Regions from separate parts of the Homo sapiens genome. Here all the other regions are linked to region 3. The links come from fine-mapping of genetic effects on plasma protein levels. Region 3 holds a variant in brackets. A gene starts in each other region. All regions are shown on their forward strands.

The links. PIP is the posterior inclusion probability: the model's chance that the variant is causal. Protein levels are from antibody-based Olink assays in UK Biobank. Linkage for the fine-mapping came from a reference panel and not from the study's own genotypes, which makes the PIPs less certain.
Region 1: CXCL10 starts here. The variant in region 3 is fine-mapped to the plasma level of the CXCL10 protein (UK Biobank, PIP 0.93).
Region 2: it holds the start of ITGAL, and the variant in region 3 is fine-mapped to the plasma level of the ITGAL protein (UK Biobank, PIP 0.99).
Region 4: it holds the start of GCNT1, and the variant in region 3 is fine-mapped to the plasma level of the GCNT1 protein (UK Biobank, PIP 0.98).

Annotation. Positions count from the first base shown.
Region 1 is chr4:76,019,516-76,027,131 of GRCh38, forward strand. It overlaps CXCL10 (C-X-C motif chemokine ligand 10), which reads right to left and starts at 3,982. Exons shown (of 4, transcript NM_001565.4): 1 at 3,856-3,982; 2 at 3,176-3,302; 3 at 2,851-2,940; 4 at 1,603-2,433. The coding sequence starts at 3,916. The coding sequence ends at 2,415. It also overlaps a transcript of ART3 not described here.
Region 2 is chr16:30,471,904-30,479,219 of GRCh38, forward strand. ITGAL (integrin subunit alpha L) reads left to right here and starts at 839. Exons shown (of 31, transcript NM_002209.3): 1 at 839-995; 2 at 2,293-2,395; 3 at 3,403-3,497; 4 at 3,610-3,677; 5 at 7,188-7,305. The coding sequence starts at 935. RefSeq lists cis regulatory regions at 434-1,008, 446-1,008, 449-1,008, 459-1,008, 487-1,008 and an enhancer at 980-1,069.
Region 3 is chr12:111,759,099-111,766,714 of GRCh38, forward strand. No RefSeq gene overlaps it. Among named protein-coding and RNA genes, the nearest start is that of ALDH2, 4.0 kb to the right of the region's middle. RefSeq lists enhancers at 2,566-3,101, 7,294-7,616 and a silencer at 7,523-7,616. The variant T/C (reference allele first, on the strand shown) is at 3,248.
Region 4 is chr9:76,455,430-76,463,045 of GRCh38, forward strand. It overlaps GCNT1 (glucosaminyl (N-acetyl) transferase 1), which reads left to right and starts at 3,753. Exons shown (of 4, transcript NM_001490.5): 1 at 3,753-3,876; 2 at 4,631-4,748. RefSeq lists silencers at 3,538-4,077, 5,068-5,137 and an enhancer at 4,688-4,797.

The sequences.
Region 1 (7,616 bases), not on the chromosome of region 3:
TGAGATCGCGCCACTGCAAGCTCTGCCTTCTGGGTTCACCCCATTCTCCTGCTTCAGCCTCCCGAGTAGCTGGGACTACAGGCGCCCGCCACTACGCCTGGCTAATTTTTTTGTATTTTTAGTAGAGACAGGGTTTCACCATGTTAGCCAGGATGGTCTCAATCTCCTGACCTCGTGATCCACCCATCTCGGCCTCCCAAAGTGCTGGGATTACAGGTGTGAGCCACCGCGCCCGGCCATATCACATTCTGATGTATGTCCTATGCAAGAATATCTGTGGTATATACATAGTAGTAGAATTGCTGGAACATGGGGTATGCCAGTGTTTAGCTTTGTGAGATAATGCCAAACTGTTTTCCAGAGTAGTCATAGCTATTTTTTCTTTCATCAGCAGTGGAAGAGCATTCCTCATTGCCTTGCATCCTTGGCAATGGTTGATGTTATCAAACTTAAAAAGTTTTGCCAGTTTAGTGGTGTGAAATGTTATTTCACAATGATTTGAATGTACATTTCCTTGATTACAAATGAGGTTGAACATCTTTGTATGTTAGGGGCTTATGCTTCTTACTTCTGTGAAATTCTTACTCACTTCTGTTTCCTTTTTTTTTTTCTTCTTTTTTTTTCTTTTAGAGATGAGGTCTCACTCTGTTGCCCAAGCTGGAGTGCAGTGGTGCAGTCATAGCTCACTGTAACCCCAGACTCCTGGGCTCAGGTGATCCTCCTGCCTCAGCCTCCTGAGTAGCTAAAAAAATATATTTTTTTTGGTAGAGACAGGGTCTCACTGTGTTTCCAGGCTGGTCTCAAACTCCTGAGCTGAAGAAATCCTCCTGCCTTGGCTTCCCAAAGTGCTGAGATTACAGGCATGAGCCACCACACCCAGCCTTGTCTTTTCCTTTTTGATCTATGGGAATTCTTTACATATTCTAGATGCTAATAATTTGCCAACTAAATGTATTGTGAAGATCTTCTTAGTAAGTAATTGGATGTGGGAGGAGAGGAAGAAGTAGTATAGAATTACTCCCAGGTTTCTGGTTTGGGAAACTGATTGGATGATGGTGCAATTAAACTAGGACATAGAATAGAGGAGGAGAAACAGATCTCAGGGAGAGGAGAATTAGTTTATTTTGGAGTTTAAACTAAAGTTCCTATGGGATATTCAAGTGGACATGTCTTAGAGAAATTTGGCCATAGGGCTGGATGTGGTGGCTTGCACCTGTAATCCCAGCTTCTCTGGAGGCTGAGGTCAGAGGATTACTTGAGCCCAGGAGTTCGAGGCTGCAGTGAGCTATGATTGCACCACTGCACTCCGGCTTGGGTGACAGAGGAAGACCCTGTGTCTAAAAAAATAAGAGATTAAAAAAAAAAGAAATTTGGCTATAGGGATTTGGAGATTAGGCCAAGCTCTGTTATGCTACATTAGTTCTGTAGGATCTTATATGATGGGCCTTTCAGGAGATTACAGTTGGAAGGAGAGAGAGTGGTAATTCTCTAACTCATTTGTCTTCTGCCCATGCCACCTTCTTCTCCAGGCCATAGATTTCTCCAATCTAAGTTTCTTATGAAATAAATATCCCAACCAAGTGACACACAAGGCACTTCATCTTAGTTATAATTACTTTATTAACCTTTTGATCTTTCAACATTTAGATAGTCTTTCTTAATATTTCCAGGAGAGTACCTCATTTTTATTTTGAAAACCATTCAGCACATTTATCTTATGTAACATGCAGAGCATATATCTATCTGTATTTTTAAAATTTTCCTGTTACTCATTGATACATAGTACTTAATTACATGTTATTCCATGTACACTGAAAACAATATAGGAAATATATACATCTAAGACTTCTACTTTGTACAGTCTTTCATTAAATAAGAATACTTACACATACATTTTCAGATATTTCTACCTTCCTGTATGTGTTTGGAATTGTATGTAGGTAGCCACTGAAAGAATTTGGGCCCCTTGGGAGGATGGCAGTGGAAGTCCATGAAGTAAAGAGCATTCTTTAAAAAGCAGATTTGATTGCATACCTTTTAGTTATTTGAGATTCTGAGAATTCTGATAAACCCCAAAGCAGAAAGATTCCTTAGTACCCTTGGAAGATGGGAAAGGTGAGGGAAATATTTGAAGCAGGGTCAGAACATCCACTAAGAACATAGCACCTCAGTAGAGCTTACATTATAGTGCCAGGGTAGAGTTATTACTGAATAGCTTAGGATGATGAACATTAACCTTCCTACAGGAGTAGTAGCAGCTGATTTGGTGACCATCATTGGTCACCTTTTAGTGTAACTGCAAACTAAGAACAATTATGGCTTGACATATACTCCATGTAGGGAAGTGATGGGAGAGGCAGCCTCTGTGTGGTCCATCCTTGGAAGCACTGCATCGATTTTGCTCCCCTCTGGTTTTAAGGAGATCTTTTAGACCTGTAAGAAGAGAAAGGGGATATAAAAGTGTGATAGTCTGACTCTGGCTTCAGATTGGGTTGTGTTTGGAAAGTACCGAGTTCATAGAATAGATAACTGAGCTTTCCTGCTGCTATGCATTCATTATGGATTATAGGGGTTGCTTTTTTCAACCATGAAAGACTTGGGGAAAATGTTGTCAGTTTTGCTTAGATAGTTATAGCTGTACTTCAAGGTTGACTGGTAATCAGGGTAACTTCTGATACTTATCACACAAGATGGTGCCTCAGCATTTAAATAAATGGAGGTAGGGGAGGGCGTGGTGGTAACATACTTTTAAACCAGCGATTGCACAGCAAACCACAATGCAAGTATTTCTGACTCCCAAGATTGCCGTTTCCTAAAGAGCAATTCTTCTGCAGGCAACAGCAAACCTACCTTTCCTTGCTAACTGCTTTCAGTAAATTCTTGATGGCCTTCGATTCTGGATTCAGACATCTCTTCTCACCCTTCTTTTTCATTGTAGCACTGTAGAAATAAATAGGGATGAAAATATTTAAAACTGTGTTGGGTCAATAAAACAGATGGCATACGCAGTTCTGAAGTCAGACATTTAAGTTTCACTCTGCATGTTTTTGTTTGCTGTACATTAGTTTTAGAATCATCACAAACCCTTTACTGATCTTTTTTTATTATCATTACATATTTAATACAGTATATAATTACAACCAGGGAAGTGATAATCAGATGGGATTTCACTCACATGATCTCAACACGTGGACAAAATTGGCTTGCAGGAATAATTTCAAGTTTTTCTAAAGACCTTGGATTAACAGGTTGATTACTAATGCTGATGCAGGTACAGCGTACAGTTCTAGAGAGAGGTACTCCTGTAGGAAAAGAGGAACAGCAGAGAAGGTTAGCACAGTGTTCATTTTAGGCATTTAATGTAGACTGGTGGTATTTAGCAGAACCTATATCCCCATATCAGCAAATAGTCACTTAATCTGAGGAGGAATGGATCACATCATAACACAACTGTAAATGATTAAAGAGTTGATTATCTGGAAGAAAAGAATTGCAGCTTGTTGATTATAAAGTCAAACCCTTAAGCACAGTTCATGTGGTTCATTGAGCTTAGTTAGGTAAGGAAGTATCTGTATCTCATCTCTGTCCGCATTCCCTCACATTTTCTCTCTCTATCCTCCCTCTTCCCCATCTCTTCTGTCCTCCTTCCCTTTTTCCTTCTCTTTCTCTTATTCTATTTGTTTCTCTCACTTCAATTCATATAAGTTTTATGATCTGAGGGAATCTCTATTTATTTCCCTCTTATTTATAAGCATGCAGTGAAACTTTTACAAATACATTATTTCTGTATTTTTAGAATTTATACCTATTCCTATTTCTCATTTTACAAATTAAGTATCCTTTGATGTTCCTTACCTTGAATGCCACTTAGAGTCAGAAAGATAAGGCAGCAAATCAGAATGGCAGTTTGATTCATGGTGCTGAGACTGGAGGTTCCTCTGCTGTAGGCTCAGAATATGTCTAAGCAATTGAGGAATGTCTCAGAAAACGTGGGGCTAGTGTGCCATATTTATCTGCAAAGCCATTTTCCCTCCCTAATTCTGATTGGATAAGGGCATTACAGTTGACTTAGCAAAACCTGCTGGCTGTTCCTGGGGAAGTCCCATGTTGCAGACTCGAAGGTATTATTTATTGTAGCCTCCAAGTTACGGAATTTCCCTCTGCTCCTCTTTTTTTGGTAATAGTGAATTAGGTTTCACTTTCCAAAACATGAACTGTTTCTTGAAAAAAAGAACTTCATTGCATATAGAAAAAAACAAAGGTTGCAATCCATTCTAACTATAATGCTTTTTCTCAACACTTAAACTTTTACAGTTACTTTCAGAGGTTATTTTTCAAAATATCCCCAGTAATAGAAATTTTTCATCCTTTATAGGTAAACCTAATTTTTTGGTAACAGCAAGTTGTGCCTGATTATTAGAACAGTGATTTACCTGGACAGTCCTCCTTGATCAAATACTATAAAGTAATAGGACTGGCCTGCTTTGACAGGGTCAAAGATCTGGAACTGGCAAGTTTTAAATAATTCAATAAATGCTTTGATCATTCATAACACCATTAGATTAAGTAAATAGCCTCCAACATAACTATTTTGAGGGAAAACATTGCTCATTTGGGTATCTGATTTGTGGTGTGTTAAAACAAGTTTCACGTCTTATAGCAGTCCCTGAATGAAAACATCATAAGATGGTATCTAGAATGGTGTGAGAAAAGGATTCATAGCTATCCTAGGGTTATTGTAAAAAACAAAGGGTGCTTTTTGAGGAAATGAATTTAAAAGCGGGGGGGCACGCATAGAGACAGACCTTGGGAAAGTAGCTTGAGACAGAAGGGAAACAGGTTGATTTACGATGGGGTTCAGCTCCAAGACACTGTTAAATGCAAAGAAAAAGAAAAAAAAAGTGTTGGCCATTGAGCTAGTAACAGTGATAACTGAAATTGGCACAATTTTAACTGGATGATGAATCGTGGCAAAACTTAATTTCACAGCATTCAATAGTACTTGACTGATTATTCATAGTAGCTAGCAGTAGAAAGCACATGATACTCATATAATGGAACACATGTTGAACCTGAGAGTGGAAATTTAGCAGTATCCATGGATATAGTGGTCCTTGGTTGTGTTCTTTGCAAATGATTAGTAACAGGGAATCCAAGATGAAATACTGTTTCAAAGGCAGGCACCACCCTGCAATGAGAGATCTGAGGCAAGTGATATTTAGAACCTAGGAAAATATATGGGAGTTCTTTTCATAGTCAGCTGGGCTGCAACAATGCAGGGATTGGTCAGGGAATGGAAAAGCTTCCATCCTAGGATCAGGCTACTGTACTAGGCAGATACTGTCTCAGAACCTGGTATCAGGGGCCAAGAATAAAGCCTGTATCTGCAAACTGGGTGCACATAAAACTTGGATCCTCAAATGTAGGAACTCCATCATTAAAGCAGAGAGTGAGTTGCTTGGGGTAAATGGAATTTGCTAGAGAGCTGAATCCCATGTTAATCTGTTCTAGGAACTGGAATAGAGCTAAGCTTTCAAGTGAATAAGTCAGTGGAATTAGCTGTGGGAAACCGGAAAGGCAAAAGAGAGGGAGGTGAGGTAGAGACTGACAGAACCCAAAAGACTTTCACCTAGCAAAGAGGCGTTCGTTCTGATGAGGGAAAGTCTTATGAGAAATAGTGACAATGGAGGGATCCTTCCATACCTATTTGTGCAGAACAAACATTTTACTGTGAATAGAATGCCAACAAATTTCAGAGAAATGTCTGACATCATGAATGGAAGAGGCCTAGAAAAGTTCAACATTAAACAATCAAAATGAGAGATGGTGACAGTTTTATTTTAGTTGGTATCTAAGTTGTCAGCTAAAATGTCTCTATATAGAAGACAATGTAAAAAGGAGATACTTGATAAATGGACTAAAAATCTGTTATTAGGGATAAAATATTTGATTTTTACTAAACATTGTATTACATTAACTGTGTGCCAGGCATTGTTTGAACTGCTTTGTGACTATTGACCATATTGACTCATTTTATTCTTATAATAACATCTACCTCTGACCCAGCCACTCTTCTATTTTTTTCACCATAGATTATTTTTGCCTGTTCTAGAACTTCATATAAATGGAACCACTTGAGTATATACTCTTTTGTGCAAGACATCTTTTGCTCAGTATAATGTTTCTTAGATTCATCGATGTAGTTGCATGAATTAGTAATTTGTTTCTCTTTATTGATGGGTAGTAATCCATTGCACAAACATATCAGTTTGTTTCTTGTTGATGGACACCTTGACTGTGTTCAGATTTTAGTTATTATATATAAAGCTGCTACGAAGATTTTTTTATAATTTTTTTTCTGGGCATATGCTTTCATTTTGTGGGGTACATATGTAGCAGTGGAACATGATCACTTACTTTTTTTATTTAAAAAACGTAAGTGATCACGTCACTCTTCTGCTTAAGACCTCAAACAACTTCCAGTTAGAATAAAATCCAAATTTCTAATTAAGCTGCTTTACTAAATCCTCTATGATCTGGCTGCTACCTATTTGTCCAACCTCATATCATTCCTTCTCAACCACTACAATCCAGTCAGTGGCCCATACACTGGCAATTTTCTCCATCTGGTATGCTTTTCCTCCTGTTCGTCACATAGAGAGTTCCTTCTGGACATTTAAATTTTAGCTGGCTTGTACCTTCTCTTGTCACACAATCTGAAGCAGACATGACTTTAATTCTCTACATGGCATTTCATACTATCTGATATTCAGTTCATTCATTTTTTTTAATTAGTGTAATGTCTGTTTCTCCATGCTAAAATGTATGCCCCAGGAGAACAGGGAACTAAAATGCATATGAGAGGCATTTGGTAAATATTGGATAGAAGGATGGTTGAATGAATCTTTACAGACTTTAAGTGACAGCATACCAGGATTGTATTTCAAGAAGTATTTCCATTTGTTCATCAGATTTCTGAATCTGGACATGAGTATTATTGTTTTCCTTAGCTTTAAGAACCAAGTTTAATTTAAGAAGACTATAATTTCCCCAGAAGTTAGTTTAGATTTAAGTAGGTAAAATCAATACAGATATTCTCAGCTAGCTATAGGACAGACTCTTCATTCCGGAACTCTGGTAAATATAGAGTGGTACCCCTAAAAGCTTCTTAGTTATTTGCTGTTTTTTTATCTGTAATTAAGCATTGAATGAATGAATGCAGGAATGCAAATATCCTCAGTGCATATCATGTATATGGCCATGGATGGTGTTAGAAGAAGGAGGAGAAGTAGGCTTGTTCTCATTATTTTCTGTGCACTTTGTGTAGGGAACTAAGCTAATCTCAGGGAATACTAGAAGGGTTGAGATCCAATATTTATCCTTGATGGGTTTACATTCTAATTGGGAAGACCAGAAACTATGAAACAATAAATATCAATAAGAGAAACTTTATGGGCCGGGCAAGGTGGCTCATGCCTGTAATCCCAGCACTTTGGGAGGCCCAGGCGGGTGGATCACCTTAGGTCAGGAGTTCTAGAACAGCCTGGCCAACATCGTGAAACCCTGTCTCTACTAAAAATACAAAAAATTGGCTGGGCGTGGTGGTGGGCGACTGT
Region 2 (7,316 bases), not on the chromosome of region 3:
GAGGATCGCTTGATTCTGGGAGTTCAAGGTTGCATTGAGCTGTGATCGCGCCAGTGCACTCTCGCTTGGGTGACAGAGCAAGACCTTGTCTCAAAAAATTTAAAACAAAACAAAAAAAACTGGTTATTTGTCTTTTTATTGTTGAATTATAAGAGTTTTAAAAAATATATTCTGGAAACAAATCCCTTATTAGAGATATGATTTGCAAATATTTTCTCCAATTTTTTTTTTTTTTAAAGACAAAGTTTCACTTTGTCGCCCAGGCTGGTCTTGATTCCTGGCTTCAAGAGATGCTCTTACCTCCACCTCCTGAAGCCCCAAAGGGCTGGAATTACAGCCAGTGAGCCACTGCACCCAGCCTCCAATTCTTTAGATTTTACATTTTAGAACCAAAATGGGTTAAATACACTGTTCTGTAATCTGCTCTTTTCTTTAATAGTAGTTCATGTACATCTTTCAAGGTCCAGAGAAAGCTCTCACTTTCTCCCCGTTTTATTTTTCCTTCCCTCATTCTTTTTCACTGCTGCATAGCATTCCATTGTAATTTTGCCACTGTTTATTAGACCAGTCCTCTGCTGAGCTTTACAGAGCCCTTAGTTGGGATGTTAGTGAGAAACCATGACAGCAGTGGAGACTGTCATCTCCCTGACATGCTGTCAGCTTTTGGATGATGTGAAAATGCAAGCAGGCACAGGAAATGTCTCTAACTTGCTTACACTTCCTCCCTGAACCCCTGCGGTTTCACAACTCCTGCAGGCACACCTCCCTCCCCGCCTGCCAGTGTCACCAGCCTGTTGCCTCTGTGAGAAAGTACCACTGTAAGAGGCCAAAGGGCATGATCATTTTCCTCTTTCACCCTGTCTAGGTTGCCAGCAAATCCCACGGGCCTCCTGACGCTGCCCCTGGGGCCACAGGTCCCTCGAGTGCTGGAAGGATGAAGGATTCCTGCATCACTGTGATGGCCATGGCGCTGCTGTCTGGGTTCTTTTTCTTCGGTAGGCAAGGGAGGAGGCAGGGGAAGGGACATGTGTCTGTGACCAGAGAAACTGCAGGGCTTGGTGCAGCTGGAGTAAACAAGGAGCTGCCCCCTAAAAGTGGGATTGGCCTTAGGGATATGGGGCCCAGGGATCTTGGAAGGAGAAAGGGGAGAGTGGGGAAATAAAAGAAACAAATAAGCAAGGGGTGGAGGCAAAGACAGAGAAGGGAGCATAAGAAGGGGCAGTGGGTTCTTTAAAAAGACAGATAGGGCCAGGCGCGGTGGCTCACGCCTGTAATCCCAGCACTTTAGGAGGCTAAAGTGGGCAGATTACTTGAGGTCAGGAATTTAAGACAGACTGGCCAACATGGCAAAACCTCGTCTCTACTAAAAATACAATAAAATTAGCTTGGCGTGGTGGCACAGGCCTGTAATCCCAGCTACTCGGGAGGCTGAGGCATGAGAATCATTTCATCCCATGAGGCAGAGGTTGCAGTGAGCCAAGCTCGTGCCAATGCACTCCAGCCTGGGTGACAGAGCAAGACTCTGTCTCTTAAACAACAAACAAACAAAAGGCAGATAGTTATTGAGTAGCTAGAGCTGGGAGGAGGGTGCTGGGTTCTGGGGCCACCTCTGCGCGTTTTAGGCAAGTCCTTTCCCCTTTCCAGCCCCACACCCTTCATCTAAACAAATGAAGGCCCAGCCTCCATGACATTCTAGGATGCTCTGAACTAAACTCCATGCGGGGAGAGAAAGCAGGGCGGAAAGGACAGCTGGGTGTGCCAGGGCGCCTGGGCAGGCTGACTGAGGGGGAAGGGAGCTGGGATCTACAGATGCTCCGAAAGACTGGCCCGGTGGGGTGGGGAGGCAGCCCCCCAGGGATCAGGGGAGCTACAATCTGAGACTGTGGGAGGAGGCGCCTGGGCCCCATGACCGCAGGAGAAGTGGGTGGCAGAGGCGCACCCGGCTCGGGGGCATCCCCATCTTGGCCTCTGCCTGAGAACTTGGTCACCCTCTGCCTTGGGGCCCCTTGGGTCTGCTCCTCTCTCTGGAGCCTCTAACTTCTCATCCTTCCTTTTTTGCAGAGAGGCCAAACGGGAAGTTGTATCCTCAGGCCCTGGGAAGAGCTTTCAGAGCTCTAGGGGGGCCGGGAGTTGCTCCTTCCATATTCCCAGAAGTCAACGCCCTGGAGGGGAAGCGCAGGGTGCGGGTGGCCTGGGGAGCGACATCCGGGTGGGCCTGGGATCGGCCACCTGCTGGGCACGTGCAGGGGCGGGGGTCCCTCGGTCGCAGCTGACGACCCTTGCCTTCCTCAGCGCCGGCCTCGAGCTACAACCTGGACGTGCGGGGCGCGCGGAGCTTCTCCCCACCGCGCGCCGGGAGGCACTTTGGATACCGCGTCCTGCAGGTCGGAAACGGGTGAGCTGTGCCCCACAAGTCCTCCTCCTGATGCCCGCCCTGGGGCAGCCCCCGAGGCGGTGGCCGCCTCCCCGACCCTCGCCTGGGCTAGTCGGTGGCACGAGGCAGCTCTCCAGGGGTTCCCGTCTGGAGGAGCCTGTGGTGGGAATCCTCAGAGACAGGAGTGAGGGATCAAAAAGCGGGATACACGCGATCAGGGAGGCCATGGAAGTGCAGAACAGGGAAGGATCCCAGCCCCAAAACACTTCGCATTGCCCAGTAGGTTCCTGACACTCCCTTACTCCCCTGCGAGCGCCTGGAAGCCAGGAGTCTGTTCTCTCTTCCTAACCCTTCTTAGATACGCCACCGCCCAGCACACAGTAGGTAAGCCATGAATGGCTTTTGAATCAAGGATTGAATGAATGTACTTATCATGAGACATTCTGGCGGATCATTCTCTGGGCCTCAGAGACTGTAAATGCAAAGGAACCTTAATTTTCTAGGATTTTAGCATTTGGAATTATTTCTCTGCGATTCTGTAGGGAAGAGATGAGGACGGAGGCATCTTCTTTTTTTTTTTTTCTTTTTTTTTTTTTTGAGAGGGAGTTTTCGCTCTTGTCGCCCAGGCTGTAGTGCAACGGTTAGATCTCACCTCTCTGCAATCTGTGCCTCCCAGGTTCAAGCCATTCTCCTGCCTCAGCCTCCCAAATAGATGGGATTACAGGCATGCACCACCATGCTGGGCTAATTGTTGTATTTTTAGTAGAGACGGGGTTTCACCATATTGGCCAGGCTGGTCTCAAGTTCCTGACCTCAGGTGATCCACCGACATCGGCCTCCCAAAGTACTTTGGCCTCATGCGAAAGTTACAGGCATGAGCCACCCCACCTGGCCAGAGGCACCTTCTTGAAGGGGAATGGCTGCAGTGCTTGGAGAAATGAGACAGGAGATCTGAACCTCCTTAGCAGGCAGGAGTAGATGGGTACAGATCTGGGCCACTCCCTCTCACAGGTGAGATTTCTCACCAGGGTCATCGTGGGAGCTCCAGGGGAGGGGAACAGCACAGGAAGCCTCTATCAGTGCCAGTCGGGCACAGGACACTGCCTGCCAGTCACCCTGAGAGGTGAGTAACTGGGGGGTGAGCTGGGAGGAATGGGATCTTGGGGAAACTGAGGCTGGCCCCAGCCCACCTAGACTGCCTGAGCTCCTCCAGACCAACCTTCTGGTGCCTACAGGTTCCAACTATACCTCCAAGTACTTGGGAATGACCTTGGCAACAGACCCCACAGATGGAAGCATTTTGGTAAGAATTTTGTGCAGTGGTGTTATCAGAGCCTGTGAAGCTCAATTCAAGTAATGAGAGAAGAAAAGAAGAAGAATGTGGATAAAAGTTCCCACAGATGGTCAAAGGCATCAGAGTCAATTAGTGTTTATTGAGAACCAATGATGAACCAGCCTTTTTTTTTTTTTTTTTTTTTTTTTTGAGACAAGGTCTCATTCTATTATTCTATTGCCCAGGCTGGAGTGCAGTGGCGTGATCACAGCTCATTGTAGCCTCAACCTCCCTGCACTCAAGTAATCCTCCCACCTCAGCCTCCCAATTAGCTGGGACTATAGGCGCATGCTACCATGCCCAGCTAATTTTTATATTTTTTGTAGACAGAGAGTGTCACCATGTTGCCCAGACTGGTCTTGAGCTCAAGAATCCTCCTGCCTCTAATCCCAGCACTTGGGAGGCCGAGGCAGGCGGATCACGAGGTCAGGAGATCGAGACCATCCTGGCTAACACGGTGAAACCCCCATCTCTACTAAAAACACAAAAAATCAGCCGGGCATGGTCGCGGGCGCCTGTAGTCCCAGCTACGCAGGAGGCTGAGGCAGGAGAATGGTGTGAACCCGGGAGGCGGAGCTTGCAGTGAGCCGAGATCATGCCACTGCACTCCAGCCTGGGCGGCAGAGTGAAATTCCGTTTCAAAAAAAAAAAAAGAATCTTCCTGCCTCAGCTTCCAAAGTGCTGGGATTACAGGTGTGAGCCACCACACCCAGCAGAGCCAGCTATTTTCAATAACTTAACCTCACTTTTCTTCCAAATATGAAATATCTGTGATCATTGATATGCAATATGATTTTTAGTGGTATACAAACTTTTAATGTTTTCATGGTTATAAATTTAATGGCTTATTAGAAAAAAATATATGACAAGCACATCAAATTTATAATTTCTTACATCATATTGCTTAGGAAGAGGCTGAAGTTAAACAAAAATTTAAAGGAAAATATTAAGAAAATAATAGTATGCTCATATGGCAGATATTGTGAAGTATTACACAAATGCCTAAAGTTTAGGAAACACTGCTTTTTTTTTTTTTTTTGAGACAGAGTTTCACTCTTGTCACCCAGGCTGGAGTGCAGTGGCATGATCTCAGTTCACTGCAACCTCCGCCTCCTGAGTTCAAACGATTCTCCTGCCTCAGCCTCCGGAGTAGCTGGGATTACAGGCGTGTGCCACCATGCCTTGGCTAATTTTTGTATTTTTAGTAGAGATGGGGTTTCGCCATGTTGGCCAGGCTGGTCTCGTACTCCTGACCTGAGGTGATCTGCCCGCCTCGGCCTCCCAAAATGCTGGGATTACAGGCATGAGCTACCACACCTGGTCACTTTATTTCTTTTAAACCCTCAAGACACTCCGGTGAGATAGGGATCAGTGTACACATTTCACACACGAGGAAACAGGACCAAAGGGTTAAGAGACTTGACCAAGGTCACATGGTTGCAAAGTGGTAGAGTCAGGATTTGAATAAAATTCTCATTTGATCCCAAGTTCATTGCTCTCTCCAACTTATCCCAGCCAGCATCCTTCTGTGTGAGAGATAGAAGACTGAGTGAAATATTCATCCAGTATTTAAGTAGAGCTTGTTTATTTAGCTACTATTATAGCCAGGCATTGGGCGAGGTTCTGACAGGGGAAGGGGAGTGAGATACAAAGTTGATGAGGCCGGGCTGGTGGCTCACATCTGTAATCCCAGCACTTTGGGAAGCCAAAGCTGGAGGATTGCTTGAGGCCAGGAGTTCAAGACCAGCCTGGTCAATCCTGTCCCTACAAAAAAAAAAAAAATGTTTTTTTCATTAGCTGGGCATGGTGGCACACACGTGTAGTCCCAGCTACTTGGGAGGATCAGTTGAGGCCAGGAGTTCAAGGCTGCAGTGAGCTTGATCATACCACTACACTACAGCCAGGGAGACAGAGTGAGACCTGTGTCTAAAAAGAACAAAAACAAAACAAAGCAAAAAGATGACCATGATACAAGCCCAGACTTTGAAGAAATTGCAATCTGGCAGGAAAGGGTCATAAATGAAAGAAATGACTTTGGGAGGCCGAGACAGGTGGATCGCTTGAGCCTAGGAGTTTAAGACTGGCCTGGGCAACATGGCAAAATGCCATCTCTACAAAAAAAAAAAATAGCCAGGCATGGTGGCGTGTGCCTGTAGTCCCAGCTATTTGGGAGGCTGAGGTAGGAGAATCACCTGAGCCCAGGAAGTTGAGGCTGCAGTGAGCCATGATTGTCCCACTGCACTCCAGCCTGGGTGATGGGAGTGAGACCTGAAAAGAAAGAAAGCAAGGAAAGAAAGCAAGAAAGCAAAGAAAGGAAAGAAAGAAAGGACGGAGGGAGGGAGGGAAGGAAGGAAGGGGAGAGGAGGAGAGAGAGATAGGAAGGAAGGAAGAAGAAAAAGAAAGATGAAGGAAGGAAGGAGAAGGAAGGAAGGAAAGAAAGAAAAGGCTGGGTGCAGTGGCTCACTCCTGTAATCCCAGCACTTTGGGAGGCCGAGGTGGGCAGACACAAGGTCAGGAGTTTGAGACCATCCTGGCCAATATGGTGAAACCCCGTCTCTACTAAAAGTACAAAAATTAACTGGGCGTGGTGGTGGGCACCTGTAGTCCCAGCTACTGAGGAGGTTGAGGCAGGAGAATCACTTGAACCCGGGAAGCAGAGGTTGCAGTGAGCCAAGATCGCACCACTGCACTCCAGACTGGGTGACAAAGCGAGACTCCGTCAAAAAAAAAAAAGAAAGAAAGAAAAAGAAAGAAAGTGGGGGGCGGAGGGGAGGGGAGAGGAAGGGAAAAAGAAAGAAAGAGGCATGGCCGGGCGCGGTGGCTCATGCCTGTAATCCCAGCACTTTGGGAGGCCGAGGCAGGCAGATCACGAGGTTGGGAGATCAAGACCATCCTGGCTAACACGGTGAAACCCCGTCTCTGCTAAAAATACAAAAAATTAGCCGGGTGTAGTGGCGGGTGCCTGTAGTCCCAGCTACTCAGAAGGCTGAGGCAGGAGAATGGCGTGAACCCGGGAGGCGAAGCTTGCAGTGAGCCGAGATCATGCCATGCAGTCCAGCCTAGGCGATAGAGCGAAGACTCCATCTCAAAAAAAAAAAAAAAAAAGAAAGAAAGAAAGAGGCACTGTATATTCTGGGAATCTTGATAATTTGATTTGGCTGGAACACAGAAAAAGAGATTGGGACTAGGAGAAGATGGACCTGGAAATGTGGGGTCGTGCCCAGTGTAAGCCCAGATAAGGAGTCCAGACTCACCACCAGTCCTACAGGCGGTGAGCATCCATTGGCATAGAGCATTGGTAGGATGGGAGGGATGGACAGTAGAGACTGTGGAGGCGGACATTCCTTGCCTTGGTAACCAGTTGGATAGAGGAAGTGAGAAAGAGGACAAGGACTCTGAACGTTCCTAGTTTTGGTTGATGTTGCCCAAAAGACACATAGCAAATAGGAGACCCAAATCTTTGGCCTTTGCTTTCTTTAGGCCTGTGACCCTGGGCTGTCTCGAACGTGTGACCAGAACACCTATCTGAGTGGCCTGTGTTACCTCTTCCGCCAGAATCTGCAGGGTCCCATGCTGCAGGGGCGCCCTGGTTTTCAGGGTAAGGAACTG
Region 3 (7,616 bases):
GGTTTAAGCAGTTCTCCTACCTCAGCCTTCCGAGTAGCTGGGATTACAAGCATGCACCACCATGCCTGGCTAATTTTTGTATTTTTAGTAGAGACAGGGTTTTGCCATGTTGACCAGGCTGGTCTTGAACTCCCGATTTCAAGTGATCTGCCTGCTTCAACCTCCCAAAGTGCTGGGATTATAGGCGTGAGCCACCGTGCCCAGCAGGGACAGGTTTTAATCAGTCATAAGCCATTGCTTTAGAGAGCAGGGCCCAGCGGGAACTGAGCTCCACTTGGATTTGTGCGGAGGTGATGGGAGGGGTGGTGGTTGGGAGGGGGGCTCAAGAGTCAGGAAGGGGAACCAGAGAGAGCAGGAAGGAGTGTGGTTGGCGTGACACCTGTCTGGGTTTGCTAACTGGCGCTTAGGGTTAGGCTCCTGCCCTCCCTTGGAGGCTGGGGGACAGGGTCCATCTTCTAGTGTTGCTGGAACAAACAGTAATTTCTTTCAGCAGCTTTGGGCTTTCTCAGGCAGGTACGGGCATCCCACAGATGTGGTCTTGAGATGTTGGACACCATGTAACTTAAGTCTTTTCATGGGAGTATGGGGGTGTGGACTTAAGCATTTGTGCTGAAAGTCTGCAGTTTTAATATGCCAAGTTTGAGGTCTAGTGGAGATGGGAGTTCAGAGGAAGGCTGGCGAGAGCGTGCTCAAGGAGAGAATTTTTGTCAGGACTGTGGCTCTAGATTCAAATGGCCCAAATTCAAATGGGTTTAAATCCTGACTCTGTGACAGAGTAGCTGGGCAACCTTTGGAAATGTTCCTTCATCTTAGAGACTTAGATCTCTCGTTTTATTTATTTATTTATTTAAATTTTTTTTAAGAGACAGAGGTCTCACCATGTTGGCCAGGCTGGTCTCAAACTCCTGAGCTCAAGCAATCCTCCTACCTCAGCATCCCAAAGTGCTGGGATTATAAGCATGCGCCACCACACCCGGCCAGATTTCTCATTTGAAAAATGAGTAGACCAGTCCTTGCTTCCCAGAATCACCTGAGGATTAAATGGGATGATGTGTGGCTTACCATAAGCCACAGCACACACCAGCTGTTCGTGTGTGGCTGGAGTCAGGAGCGGGACCCGCTAAAGAGGAGGCGGCTGTGCTCACATTGGAGTGCAAGAATGTGGGGCCTCATCTGGGCTGAGGACTAGCCTGGACCACATAAGATGCCATGCTTCTCACACTCAACTAGCAAAGGAATGCCCCTGCGATCAGGTTAAAATGCAGAGCGTGGTGCGGTGGGCCTGCCTTCCTAACACACTTGCAGGTCATGCTCCTTGTTTTGGGACCCACTTTGAGAAGCGAGGGTGAGAAGGGCTTGACTTCCCTAACCTGATCCCCAGGGGAGGCAGAATGAGCAGACACCGCCTGGCTAGAATCATAAGAGCTACTGGGTATTTAGTACATACCAGGTGCCAAGAACTATCTGTATATTATTATTATTATTGTTTTTTGAGACAGAGTCTCACTCTGTTGTGCAGGCTGGAGTGCAGTGGTACGATCTCAGCTCACTGCAGCCTCTGCCTCCCGGGTTCAAGTGATTTTCCAGTCTCAGCTTCCTGAGTAGCTGGGACTACAGGCACGCACCACCACACCTGGCTAATTTTTGTAATTTTAGTAGAGACGGTTTCACCATGTTGGCCAGGCTTGTCTTGAACTCCTGACAGGTGATTGACCCACCTCAGCCTCCTAAAGTGCTGGGATTACAGGCATGGCCACTGCGCCTGGCCAGTTATTTTGAACCCTATAACAATTGGCAGATCCTTTTATTCTGCCCCTGCTAGAGATGAGGAGACAGAGGTTCAAAGGAATTGTGCAACTTGCTTAAGATCACACAGCTTGTCAGTGAATTCAAACCTAAATTCAGAAGATCCCAGAGCTCTTTCTACTCCATGGCATGGATCGTTAAGATCACCTCTGTGAGGTACTGGCCTCCTCACCTAGGAAAGGAGGAAGATGATGAGGCTCATGTCACCAAGGAGAGCGTGCTGTGCCCTCAAGAAGTGCATGAGCTTCTGATGCTTCCAGAATAATCTCCGGGATGCCCCCCCGACTGCCTCTTAGGGGGTCAGGCTCCATGATGGGGGTGTCTGCCCTGTGGCCCTGGCTGCCTGTGGAGTGTCAAGCCAGCTGTGTGTCCGAGAGAGAGAGAGATTGTGTGTGTGTGTGTGTGTGTGTGTGTGTATGTGTGTGTGTGTACATATGCAAACAAGGAGGGCAGAGCTGGGGCTCAGGGCTGACCATATTTTTCCTCCTACCTGTGAGGGCAGATGTCTTACTGTGTTTTGTTTTGTTTTGCTTTTGAGACGGAGTTTTGCTCTTGTTGCCCAGGCTGGAGTGCAATGGCATTATCTCAGCTCACCGCAACCTCCGCCTCTCGGGTTAAAGCGATTCTCCTTCCTCAGCCTCCCAAGTAGCTGAGATTACAGGCATGCACCACTACACCTGGCTAATTTTGTATTTTTAGTAGAGATGGGGTTTCTCCATGTTGGTCAGGCTGGTCTAGAACTCCCAACTTCAGATGATCCGCCCGCCTCGGCCTCAAAGTGTTGGATTATAGGCTGAGCCACTGCCCCCAGCCAGATGTCTTCCTGTTAAAATGGGGCTTTAAATTCCTCACCTAACATCATTGTTTGCAACAACAGCAACAAAGAGCTTCCATAGACAGAGTCAGTGTCCCAGAACGGGGACTAAACAACCAAACATCTAGAATCTCACCAGTCAGTGACCCTGAAGGAGACCTCAGTCACAACCTTTGTTGGAGAGCAAGTGGAACTAGGGTTTTTTAAAGCCTGAAAGCACATCAGTTGTGCCCTAACAATGAAAGGTTTCAGAGTAGTTGAAAGCTAGGAATTTGAATATCTTAGAGGAAGTTAAGTGGCTTGAGGTGCTTCCACCGAAGGTCTCAGCACCATGAGAATGCCTGTGCTTCTGCCGGCCCCATTCCTGCCAGTGAGCCCACAGACAAGGGGCGATGAAGAACCAGGAAACAGATGGAAAGAAACGTGGAAGAGAGGAAAGCCTCAGACTGTCAGGGTGAAATCTAGGTTGAGAGTTAAGTTTTAGTTCATTCTTTGGAGAGACTGAGCCACAAGGAGCCATAATTACAATAGCGTTTCAGCACATCCAGGTGATCTTGGTCTGCAGTATTTGGTTGAGGACTGTGTGAAAGCAGCTGAGGCCAAATGTGGTGGCTCACACCTGTAATC[T/C]CAGCATTTTGGGAGGCTGACTTGGGTGGATCACTTGAGGCCAGGAGTTTGAGACCAGCCTGGCTAATATGGTGAAACCCTGTCTCCACTAAAAATACAAACATTAACCAGGCATGGTAGTGCATGCCTGTAATCCCAGCTACTTGGGAAGCTTGAGGCAGGAGAATCGCTTGAACCCAGGAGGCAGAGGTTGCAGTGAACTGAGATGGTACCACTGCACTGCAGCTTGGGCAACAGAGAGAGACTCCGTCTCAAAAAAAAAAAAAAAAAAAAAAAAAGCAGCTAAGGAAGGCTACTATGGTCACAAAAGACTTCCCAGAAGATGGGACTTGGGCTGGATCTTGATAGGGAAGATTTCCATAAGGAGAGAGGGCAGGACATGGGTGGAACAGGTGCACCAACAGTAGGGCACCAGGGATGAGAGAGCTGCTGGTTAGGATTATGGTGAGCACCACAGACCACAGACAAACCAGAATAAACGAACCTGTGGACCAGCGTGTCCTGCACTGAGACACACACCACGCACACCAACAGGGACGAAGCACGTTGCCCACATTGTATCGATGTATGCGAATGTGGATAAGTCAGCTCATTTTCTCCTTCCCCTCCCCACAACCAAGTTTACTGCTGCTCCTGGCTCCCCCATCCTGGGGAATAGCACATGGTAAGAACCTCAGCACCCACTCCACTCCTCTCGCCCTCATCTCCACACAGCTACCTGTCAATTCCACCTTCACACTCTTTCTGCCAACTGAGCCCTCCTCATCTCTCTGCCTCTGGCCTGCCTCCCCACTACAACTGAGTTTCCATGCAGTTCTCAGAGGAATCCCTCGAAGGCACATGTGCAACCTCATCACTTCCAGGCTGAAAGATCTTGGTTAAGAGAAATATTAGTACAAGCTATTAAGACTTAGGAGGCTGCCGGGCATGGTGGCACATGCCTGTAGTCTCAGCATTTTGGGAGGCCAAGGTGGGCTGACTGCTTGAGCCCAGGAGTTCAAGACCAGCATGGGCAACATAAAGAGACCCTATCTCTACAAAAAAAAAAAAAAAAAATTAGCTGGTGCCTTAGTCCGTTTTCATGCTGCTGATAAAGACATACCTGAGACTGGGCAATTTACAAAAGAGGTTTAGGCCAGGTGCGGTGGCTCATGCCTGTAATCCCAGCACTTTGGGAGGCCAAGGCAGGTGGATCACCTGAGGTCAGGAGTTCGAGACTAGCCTGGCCAACATGTTGAAACCCCATCTCTACTAAAAAATACAAAAATTAGCCAGTCGTGGTGGCACGTCTGTAATCCTAGCTACTTGGAAGGCTGAGGAAGGAGAATCGCTTGAATCTGGGAGGCGGAGTTTGCAGTGAGCCAAGATAGCACCACTGCACTGCAGCCTGAGTGACAGAGCTAGACTGTGTCTCAAAAAAAAAAAAAAAGAAAAGAAGTTTAATGGACTTATAGTTCCACATAGCTGGGGAGGCCTCACAATCACGGCAGAAGGCAAGGAGGAGCAAGTCACGTCTTACATAAATGGCCGCAGGCAGAAAAAGAGCTTGTGCAGGGAAACTCCCGTTTTTAAAACCATCAGATCTCGTGAGACTCATTCACTATCAAAAGAACAGTGCAGTAAAGACCTGCCCCCATAATTCAGTCACCTCCCACCAGGTTCTTCCCATAACATGTGGGAATTGTGGGAGTTACAATTCTAGATGAGATTTGGGTAGGGACGCAGTGAAACCATATCAGTCAGGCATGGTGGCATGCACCTGTAATCACAACTACTCAGGAGGCTGAGGTGGGAGGATCAATTGAGCCTGGGAGGTCGAGGCTGCAGCGAGTTGTGATTGTGCTACTGCACTCCAGCCTGGGTGACAGCGAGACCCTGGTCTTGGGGAAAAAAAACAAGAAGACTTAGAAAGCTACAGTGATGAAAACAGTGTCATACTGGCACACGCATACAGAGATCAATGACACAGAATATACAGTAGTTCAGAAATAGCTACTTACAGTTACTTAGTAGTAAAAAGATGACTGGCAGGATGTATTTGTGCCATATATGATAGACAAAATGTTAATTGCCTGGATACATATAAAGCACCTACAAATCAATTTCAGAAAGACCAACAATCCAATAGAAAAGTGAGCCAGAGACATGAGCAGCTAGTTCATAGCAGAGGAAACATGCATGACTTCATCTAGGCAGAGATGCTCAAGCTCACTCGTAAAAGAGAAGCAAATTAATGTGGTAGTGAAATGCCACTTTTTCGTCTCTCAGATTAGCAAAGCTAAAAAAAAAATCCTGAAACTTCTACTGGTGAGGGTGTAAGGAAACTCAGACATGACAGGTAGTGGGGCATAAATTAAACTTCTTTGGAGGGTAATATATCTGTATTTAAATTGTAAATATTCTTTGTTCCATTTCTACTAATTTCTTTCTTTTCTTTTCTTTCTTTTTTTTTTCTTTTTTTTTTTCTTTTTTTTTTTTTTTTGAGACGTAGTCTCACTCTATCACCCAGGCTGGAGTTCAGTGGCACGATCTCAGCTCTTGGCTCACTGCAACCTCTGTCTCCCAGATTCAAGCAATCTCCTGCCTCACCTTCTGGAGTAGCTGGGATTACAGGCACTGCGACCATTCCTGGCTAATTGTGTGTGTGTGTGTGTGTGTGTGTGTGTGTGTGTGTGTGTGTGTGTGTGTGTGTTTAGTAGAGATGGGGTTTCACCATGTTGGCCAGGCTGGTCTCGAACTCCTCACCTCAAGTGATCTACCCGCCTCAGCTTCCCCCCCAGAGTGCTGAGATTACAGGCACGAGTCATGGTGCCAGCCTCATTTCTATTAATTTCTTAAGCAAATCAAGAGCATACATTGTGGCATTGTTTGTAGTGGCAAAAGATTGGAAACAACCTAAATGTCCATCATAGGAAATTCATGAAATAAAACTACCTCATGTATCCAGAGGAATACCATGAAACTGTTGAAGAGAATGGGGACATAGTCCTTGTGTGCTGTGACAAAACGATCTCCACACACAGTATTAAGGGAAAAAAAGTACCTGGCACGGTGGCTCATGCCTGTAATCCCAGAACTTTGGGAGGCCGAGGTGGGCGGATCACCTAAGGTCAGGAGTTCGAGACCAGCTTGACCAATATGATGAAACCCCATCTCTACTAAAAATACAAAAATTAACCAAGTGTGGTGGCATGCGCCTGTAATCCCAGCCACTTGGGAGGCTGAGACAGGAGAATCGCTAGAACCTGGGAGGTGGAAGTTGCAGTGAGCCCACATGGTGCCAGCCTGGGCAACAAGAGTGAAACCCCATCTAAAAAAAAAAAGCAAGGCGCCATTGGGAAGGGGAAGTGGGGCCTGCATGGCTGAATTCAGAGAAGGAAGGGAGTCTTGGTTATCAGATTATCTCTGCAGCTGATCTCCAAACCTATTTCCCTTCTTCCTGGCACAGGGGCCACTCATTTCCCAGACTCTTTTGCATGGAGGCATGGTTGTGTGATTGAAATCCAGCCAGGCGAGCAGGCTCAGCCCACAGAAACCTCCCATGGGCCACCCCCATGCCTTTTCTTCCTCTGGTTTGTGTGGAATGGTGCTGAGCCCCCAGGGCGACTTTGGTGGAATCTGGTGTTGAAATCAGAGTCCCACCGCCGGGCGCGGTGGCTCACGCCTGTAATCCCAGCACTTTGGGAGGCCGAGGCAGGCGGATCATGAGGTGAGGAGATCGAGACCATCCTGGCTAACACGGTGAAACCCCGTCTCTACTGAAAATACAAAAAATTAGCCGGGCGTGGTGGCAGGCGCCTGTGGTCCCAGCTACTCCGGAGGCGGAGGCAGGAGACTGGTGTGAACCCGGGAGGCAGAGCTTGCAGTGAGCCGAGATCGTGCCACTGCACTCCAGCCTAGGCGACACAGTGAGACTCCGTCTCAAAAAAAAAAAAAAAAAAAAGAATAAGCAAATCATGCAAATCATCCTGTTCTAAACTCTGAACCGCTGCTTCCAAGACCGTCCCTGCCCTTGCCCTGGCCGCCTCTCTCCTTGTTAACTGGGCTCCATTCATTCTTTCCATTTCTCTAACACGTGCCAGGTGGTCTCATCTCCTGGCCTTTGCCCTTGCTGTTCCCTGTCATCATTCAGGTCTCACTTGTCATTTCCTGACCATGGTACTTATAAAAGCAGTGCCGTCTGCCCCATCCATGTCACCTCGTTCATCTCCTTCACCTCCGAAATGATCTCGCTTTTGGGTTTACGGCCGGTCTCTTCACCTGGAGCATCAGCCGGGAAGGTCAGGGTCGCCCTGGCTCGGGCCTGTTCACATTGGGGTCAAAGGCACACATTGGGGGCTCAACCAAGGCGAGCTGCGTTCGCGGGGCC
Region 4 (7,616 bases), not on the chromosome of region 3:
TGTGAAAGGATGTTATCCATGATGATTACCTAAGTCATTTGGGGAAAGGTGGTTCTATGTAGTTAGTGGTTTCTCAGAAAATACAGCCGGGAGAGGATGTTCACTGGTCTCCAGTAACACAAAGTATAGGTCAAGCAACACCATCCCCTTACTTTTTTTTTAATTTATTCTTATTTATTTATCTATTTTTGAGATGGAATCTTGCTCTGTCACCCAGGCTGGAGTGCAGTGGCATGATCTTGGCTCACTGGAACCTCCGCCTCCCAGATTCAACCGATTCTCGTGCCTCAGCCTCCCCAGTAGCTAGGATTACAGGCATGTGCCACCGCACCCAGCTAATTTTTATATTTTTAGTAGAGACGGGGTTTCGCCATGTTGGCTAGGCTGGAACTCGAACTCCTTACCTCAAGTGATCTGCCCACCTCGGCCTCCCGAAGTGCTGGGATTACAGGCATAAGCCACCATGCCCTGCCTCTGTCCCGTTATTTGATTGTACTTGTAACTATAGTTTTATTATGACATTTTAAGAATATATTGCTATTGTATTAATCATTACTATGACAGCTGTGTTTATCAGACACTTTCCCACATCTATAATATTAGGAGAGTTGGGTGTTTGTGATCATGAGTTTGCTCCTTGTGCTGGTTATTGAAGTATGTCTTAGAGTTCAAACTCAAGCTTCTATCTTCTGCTTTGTGAGCCAGGGCTGGGACTTAGCAAATCACATTTCCTATAAGGTTTTGCTTATAAGGGGTGCTTGAGGAGAGGGACTTGCTACTTTATAGCTGCTTACTGTTCCTGTCCATGTTACCAAGCAATGGCTCTTCTCCCTGGCTGCAGCAACAGCTGGTTCCAGTTTCTTAGATTTGTTTGTTTGTTTTAATCCACCCTCTCCCATCCAGCCTCAATATTTACCTTCAGAGATAAAAGCACCAGCTGGGTACCGCCCCCTCCTTTGAGGTCTGACTCCCAGCCAACCAGGGGCCCTCTCCTGGCTGTTAGGTTCTGATAACCCCAACACTTCCCCTCTCCCCAGCTCTGTGCATGGCAGCTGCTTCCTGCAGTTACTCTCTCTCTGTTACTACAATGTTTTTGCCTTGCCAATCTTCATGACCTTAAATTCTCTGTAAAAGTAATTGCTGTGATTTCTGTTTTCTGACTGGGCCCTGACTGATACACCCCTAAGCATTCCAGAAATACCTTCTAAACTACTTGTATAGATTTATGGGTGTATGTTATTGCAGGCATTAAAAATAAGTGGGCTGGGCAAGGTGGCTCACACCTGTAATCCCAGCATTATGGGAGACTGAGGTGGGTGGATCGCTTGAGCGTGGGAGTTCAAACCCAGCCTGGGCAACATGGTGAAACCCTATCTCTACAAAAAATACCAAAAAATTACCGGGCATGGTGGCACACACCTGTAGTCCCAGCTACTTGGGAGGTTGAGGTGAGAGAATCACCTGAGCAGGGGTAAGTTGAGGCTGCAGTGAGCTGTGATTGCGCCACTGTGCTCCAGCCTGAGTAACAGAGTGAGACCCTGTCACATACACAAACAAAATGGATTACACTTATGGTATACAGGCAGTATCCAACTGACAAACAAGATATATTCCAAAAGTTAATTCATAAATCTATTGCTTGGCCACCACCCCTGGTTAATTTATCTATTTTTATTTTGTAGAGGTGAGGTCTGGCTATGCTGCCCAGGCTGATCTCAAACTCCCAGGCTCAAGTGATACTTGTACCTCGGCTTCCTAAAGTGTTGGAATTACAAGCGTGAGCCATTGCAAACAGCCAGCTATATTTTATTTTTAATTAATTAATTTATTTATTTTTGAGATGGAGCCTTGCTTTGTCACGCAGGCCAGAGTGCAGTGGCACGATCTCAGCTCACTGCAACCTCCACCTCCCGGGTTCAAGCGATTCTCATGCCTCAGCCTCCTGAGTAGCTGGGACTGCAGGCACACGCCACCGCAGCTGGCTAATTTTTGTATTTTTAGTAGAGACGGGGTTTTGGTATGTTGGCCAGGCTGGACTCAAACTCCTGACTTCAGGTGATCCACCCACCTCGGCCTCCCAAAGTGCTGGAATTACAGGCATGAGCCACTGTGCCCAGCCCCGGCTATACTTTAAACTTATGTTTAGCAATTAACATGTCAGTATTTTAACTTACAAATGACTCAGACATTTAATGAATATCTATTACTTAATTTAATATGTTCGAAATTTCAAGTCACCAAAAAAGATTTTTAAAACTATTTTTAAGTAGACAAATTTTATAAAACAAATTATTTTTAAAAGTTTATAAACTTTTATTCCATTTACATTTACCTAATCTACTTGCTCTTAACAATTATGCTTGAATTGCTCATGAAAAATTTCATGAGATATTAAACAAAGCTAGCCATTGAAGGAGTTCAGGAGTTTTTCCCAAAATCATTTCCTCTCCCCTAAATTGTCCCTCCCCAATGAAGAGGATACACAAGCTCCTAAAATCTCAGTTTTTGTTGGGGGAGGCAGAGGGAATATTAGTTTTTCTTTTCTGTGATACCCCCTACACGAAATCTGTGTACTTTTTCTCTTGTTAATCTACCTGCAGTCAATTTATTTCATAGACTTAGTTATCCAAGCCTCAGAGAGTAGAGGGGAAGTCTTTCTTCCTCTATACCATCATCTTATGTTAATTTTTGTTGACAAATCAGGCAAGTGTCAAACATATCACAGTCTAATGGCCTCTGAGTTGGATTTTTTTTTTTTTTTTTTTTTTTTTGAGATGGAGTCTCGCTCTGTTGCCCAGGCTGGAGTGCAGTGACACGATCTCGGCTCACTGCAAGCTCCGCCTCCCGGGTTCACGCCATTCTCCTGACTCAGCCTCCCGAGTAGCTGGGACTACAGGCGCCCGCCACCACGCCTGGCTAATTTTTTGTATATTTAGTAGAGACGCGGTTTCACCATGTTAGCCAGGATGGTCTCGATCTCCTGACCTGGTGATCCGCCCGCCTCGGCCTCCCAAAGTGCTGGGATTACAGGCGTGAGCCACCGCGCCCGGCCAGAATTTTTTTTAAACAACATGGAAACAAATAAGACCTCGTTCTGTTTTCTAGGAGCTAAAAATCCAACGAAAGAAGACACAGACACAATATTCCCCTTGTTACAAAGAGAACTGTGTCAACTTTTATAACTGACACAAAGATCTGTGCTATAAGGGCGGGGAAGGTTTTTTCCTACTTTCCACAGCACTGTGGATTGTTCCACAGTTTAATTTGATCTTAATTTTTATGTGGAAATACACATGAATGTAATGAGTTCTTAAATGCTAAATTTAGGAAGCAAGGTTCGTTAGGGGAGAGAAAAAAACACCTACATGGTTATCTCTAAACTTTACATATCGAGAACCTTGGAATTTAATTTTATTGTTGTTCTGTAACATATTTTCATGTTTAAAATCAGAAAAGGCAGCATTTCTCGAGTTTCCTGCTTTCGAGGAAGGGAGGCATAAAATGTTTAAAAAGACGCCGCTCACACACCTCTTAAGAATCAGAGCACAGTGAGGAAGAGGAGCGAGGAAGCACTAGGATCGCAGCGCTACTCCCAGACCACGTCAGTGCCCAGAGGGCGCCCTCGCCTGTAGGCGGGAACCGCGAGTCCGCAGCAAGTCCCCAGCCCCGAGCTCGCGCAGGTGGGCGAGGCGGGGACGTGGTGGGCGGGGCCTAGAAAGGCGGGGCCTCTGGGGGCGGCCCCGGGGCGGGCCACGCTGGTGTGAGGGCTGCAGGCGCAGCTCCGGAGCGCCTAGAGCGCGGCGCGGGGCGGGAGCTTGGTGGAGCAGGAGCGGCTGGGCATCCTCCTGAGACTCCGGGGTCAGACGCCCACTCCAGGTAACCGGCTCTCCCTCGTGTTCCCCTGCTCGGCCGCCCGGCGGTGGGGGAAGGCTGAGAAGGATGGGTGGGAGGGAGCCGGCTCTCAGCCAGTGCCCCGTGGCCCCGGGCGGGCTGGGCTCCCCCGCGGAGGAGGAAGCAGAACCGGGGTGCGCCCGGGACCGGAATGGAGCGGCGCCTCTTCCTTCCACCTTCATTTTCCGTCCGCTCAGTGGGGCTGGGACGCCGGTGCCCCGTGTCCCCTGAAAGTCACTTTCTGGCCTCTTGCCCCTGGTCCGTGTAGCTTAGATGTCGGAGGGGTTGGCTGCGGGCGTGGATAGGCAGGGAACGAACAGACTCGCTGCCATCCCATGGGTGCCAGGGGCTTAACTTCATTTAACTTCATTGAATCCTAACGCCAGCCCGGCTAAGATGCATTTTCACCCCTACTTTACTGATAAAGAGGCCAACGCTAGGATAATAAATGACTCACCCTGGAGCAAACTATTACTAATAAGAAAAGAGACGTTAGTTTAGGGGCTCCGAAGCCTCTCCTTTCCTGCTCCCTCGCTTTCCTTCTTCTCGCGGCAGTCTAGGAAACTCGCGCGCAGGGTCTATTACGAAAACAAGTGATTCGTCTTAAAAGCATTTTACCCCCTCCTAGGTTTCTCTTTCCTCTTTTTTTTAAGTATCTCAGGCAGATTCCTCCAAGTTTTGGTTATTAGGTTTTTGAAATGGAAGAAGCCCTTGCTCACTGCTTCTTTTCTCCTGGCAGCGCTTTCTGCGCAGCACAGGCACCCTCGCCTGTCACGCCTCCCTCTCCTCTTCCCGTCTCCCAGCGTGGATGAGGGCGCCTGCAGATCCCGGCTAGGGCACGGACCGCCTAGGCCGAGGTAGGTTCTGTAGGCACCTGGCATGCTGTAGATGCATATAAACGTTGCCCTGTACACCCTTTGCCTTGTTATTTCTTTCTGCAGAAAAGAGAGTCGGTTTTTTACACATAATGGGGCAAGAGGCCAATTGGGAAGATATATGGTGTTCAAAGAAAGCCGTGGTGCCTTGAGATGAGAATGCGGCCACAGCTTTTTGTGGGCTGAATTTGATGGGTGGGAGGTGAGAGACGTGGTCTGGAAGTTGTCTCTTCGTCTGGCATTCTGCCCCCCTTCCAGAGCTGTTCTGAAAGGCCGGTTTGTTTTATAGAGGGGAGGAGGAGGGCTTAGTAGTTTTTAAAGATCAGTGTAAATTACCTGCTAGGAGCTTAGGCAATTCCAGGCAGGCCCCCCTGCTGGAGGCTTTCGTAACAGATTTCAGTTCTAGCAGGGAGGAAAACTCAGACTGTGTAGATACCTGCTTTTTCTTAAAGGAATTTTTTTCGGGCCCTTAAAATGGTAGTTTTGGGAAACTGATTTCTTAGAAATGGCAAACTCCTTTATTTTAAAATACAATATACCAAACTATGAATTTACTTTTAAAAAGTTTTATTGGCCGAGAGGTTGATATTTTTTCCATTTCATGATGAGGGTTTGACGGTCACTGCCACCTCCTCTGCCCGTCCTTCAACTTGGCCCTGTAAAGGATCTCCTTAGCCTTGGCCCCAAGTTTGTACTAGATTCTATCCTTCATTAATTATAGTTCATTCTTGATTAATGATAGCAATGCTTCCACTCACTTTTTAAGGAGTTACTCCTTTTCCGTTTGTAATTGAATTGCTTAACAGTAAGAAAAACGTTTTTCCCTAAAACTGGGATCACAAAATCCACTTTATCCACATGGACTAAACAGGTAATGCACAAGAGTGCTTGGTTGGGCCCAGGTGACTGCAGAGGAACCTGCTAAGGCTGGGTGGATATTGGCCATTTCCACCGAGTATCCATGCAGGAATTCCCATTCAGCCATACAGTGTAGGCAGCTTTTTTTTTTTTTTTTTTTTTCCACGAATAGCTGAGAACTTTTACTTAAAAATAAAAAATGTAAAGCCTGATTTTAAATATTGGCTCATATTTTTTCCTTTTTAGAACACAAAGAGGGCCGGGCGCAGTGGCTCACACCTGTAATCCCGGCACTTTGGGAGGCCCAGGCGGGTGGATCACGAGGTCAGGAGTTCAAGACCAGCCTGGCCAAGATGGTGTCTCTACTAAAAATTCAAAAATTAGCTGGGCGTGGTGGCTAGGCGCCTGTAATCCCAGCTACTCGGGAGGCTGAGACGGAGAATTGCTTGAACCCGGGAGGCGGAGGTTGCAGTGAGCCGAGATTGCACCACTGCACTCCAGCCTGGGTGACAGAGCGAGAGTCTGTCTCAAAAAAAAAAACACACACAAAGAGCCTGGGCATGGTGGCTCACACCTGTAATCCCAACATTTTGGGAGGCTGAGGCAGGTGGATCACTTGAGGTCAGGAGTTCAAGACCAGCCTGACCAACATGGCAAAACCCCATCTCTACAAAAATATTCAAAAATTAGCCAGGTGTGGTGGTGGGCACCTGTAATCCTAGCTACTCAGGAGGCTGAGGCAGGATAATTGCTTGAACCCGGGAGGCGGAGGTTAGGATGAGCAGGGATCGTGCCACTGCACTCAAGCCTGGACGACAGAGTGAAGCTCCGTCTCAAAACAAAAATCCCACAAAGAATAAAATCAAATTTGTTTCATGCATCATCTGTTTGCAAAACTCTGCCTTAAAAACTGCTACTGTACACGGTGATTATATTCTCCGATGAATGGAAAATTCTGAACTGTGATGTAGATATTGTACATTTTTCATGAAATGAAGTGGTAGAAAACAGAAATTACTACTGGAAATGATCCCTTCTGACTGTCAAATTCTGTTTTCTATGAAGTGTGTGGTATTTCAGCTATACTGTATTTTTTTTTTTTTTATAGAGCCAACCAAGGACTCTTGTCACTATTTTTATTTATTCTAATGAGAAATGTATTCATGGTTCCAGGTCAGTATGTCAAATGTCTAACTCCCTGTCTTAAAAAGGGAGTTCCCAAATGACTGTTCATATAACCATATGTGTTTCTTGTGGAGACTGTCTGTATTCTTGGCTTTGTCACTGGATTTGTGGCTTAGTGCTGTCACGTTTCCTATCTGAGGCAAATGCCATATATGTTTAGACCAGCCTTTCTCAATTGTGGCACTTTTGCCATTTTTGGCCAGTTAAATTCTGTTGTGGGGGCTGTCCTGTGCATTGCAGGATGTTTAGCAGCATCTCTGGCCTCTACCTACTAAATGCCAGTGCACCCTCCCTGCAGTTAAATGACCCCAAATGTCTCCAGACATAGGCAAATGTTCCCCGGAGAACAAAGTCATCTTTGGTTGAGGAACAAAATGAACCTATATTTAAGATGGTCTAAATGTTTCTGAGATGGTCTAAACATTTATAAGCTTAACAATTAACTTGAAACTCTTCAGGACTAGAGAAGCTATTTGTAAATTTAAACATCTGACGCCTTGAAACACCTTTATCATAAAGATAACTAAACCAGTGTTCTTTGTGAATGGCCAATGTGTCCTGCCAGTTTCTTTTTTTTTCTTTTTCCTATTCTGAGAAGCATGCCCTGCCAGTTTCTATCTCCAAAGAAATTTCAAGCGTTCAGTGTATTTGTTAAATTTCATAAAGTTTAAAAAGTTGAAAATGAAAAAGGAATTCTACGGTAGTTTTAAGTAGAATTTAGTTTTAAGAAAAATTAACCTCTTTTTAGCTAACAGCAATAAAACGAAGACTGCTGTGTATTTCTGTAATCTGAAAAATCTCGACTTT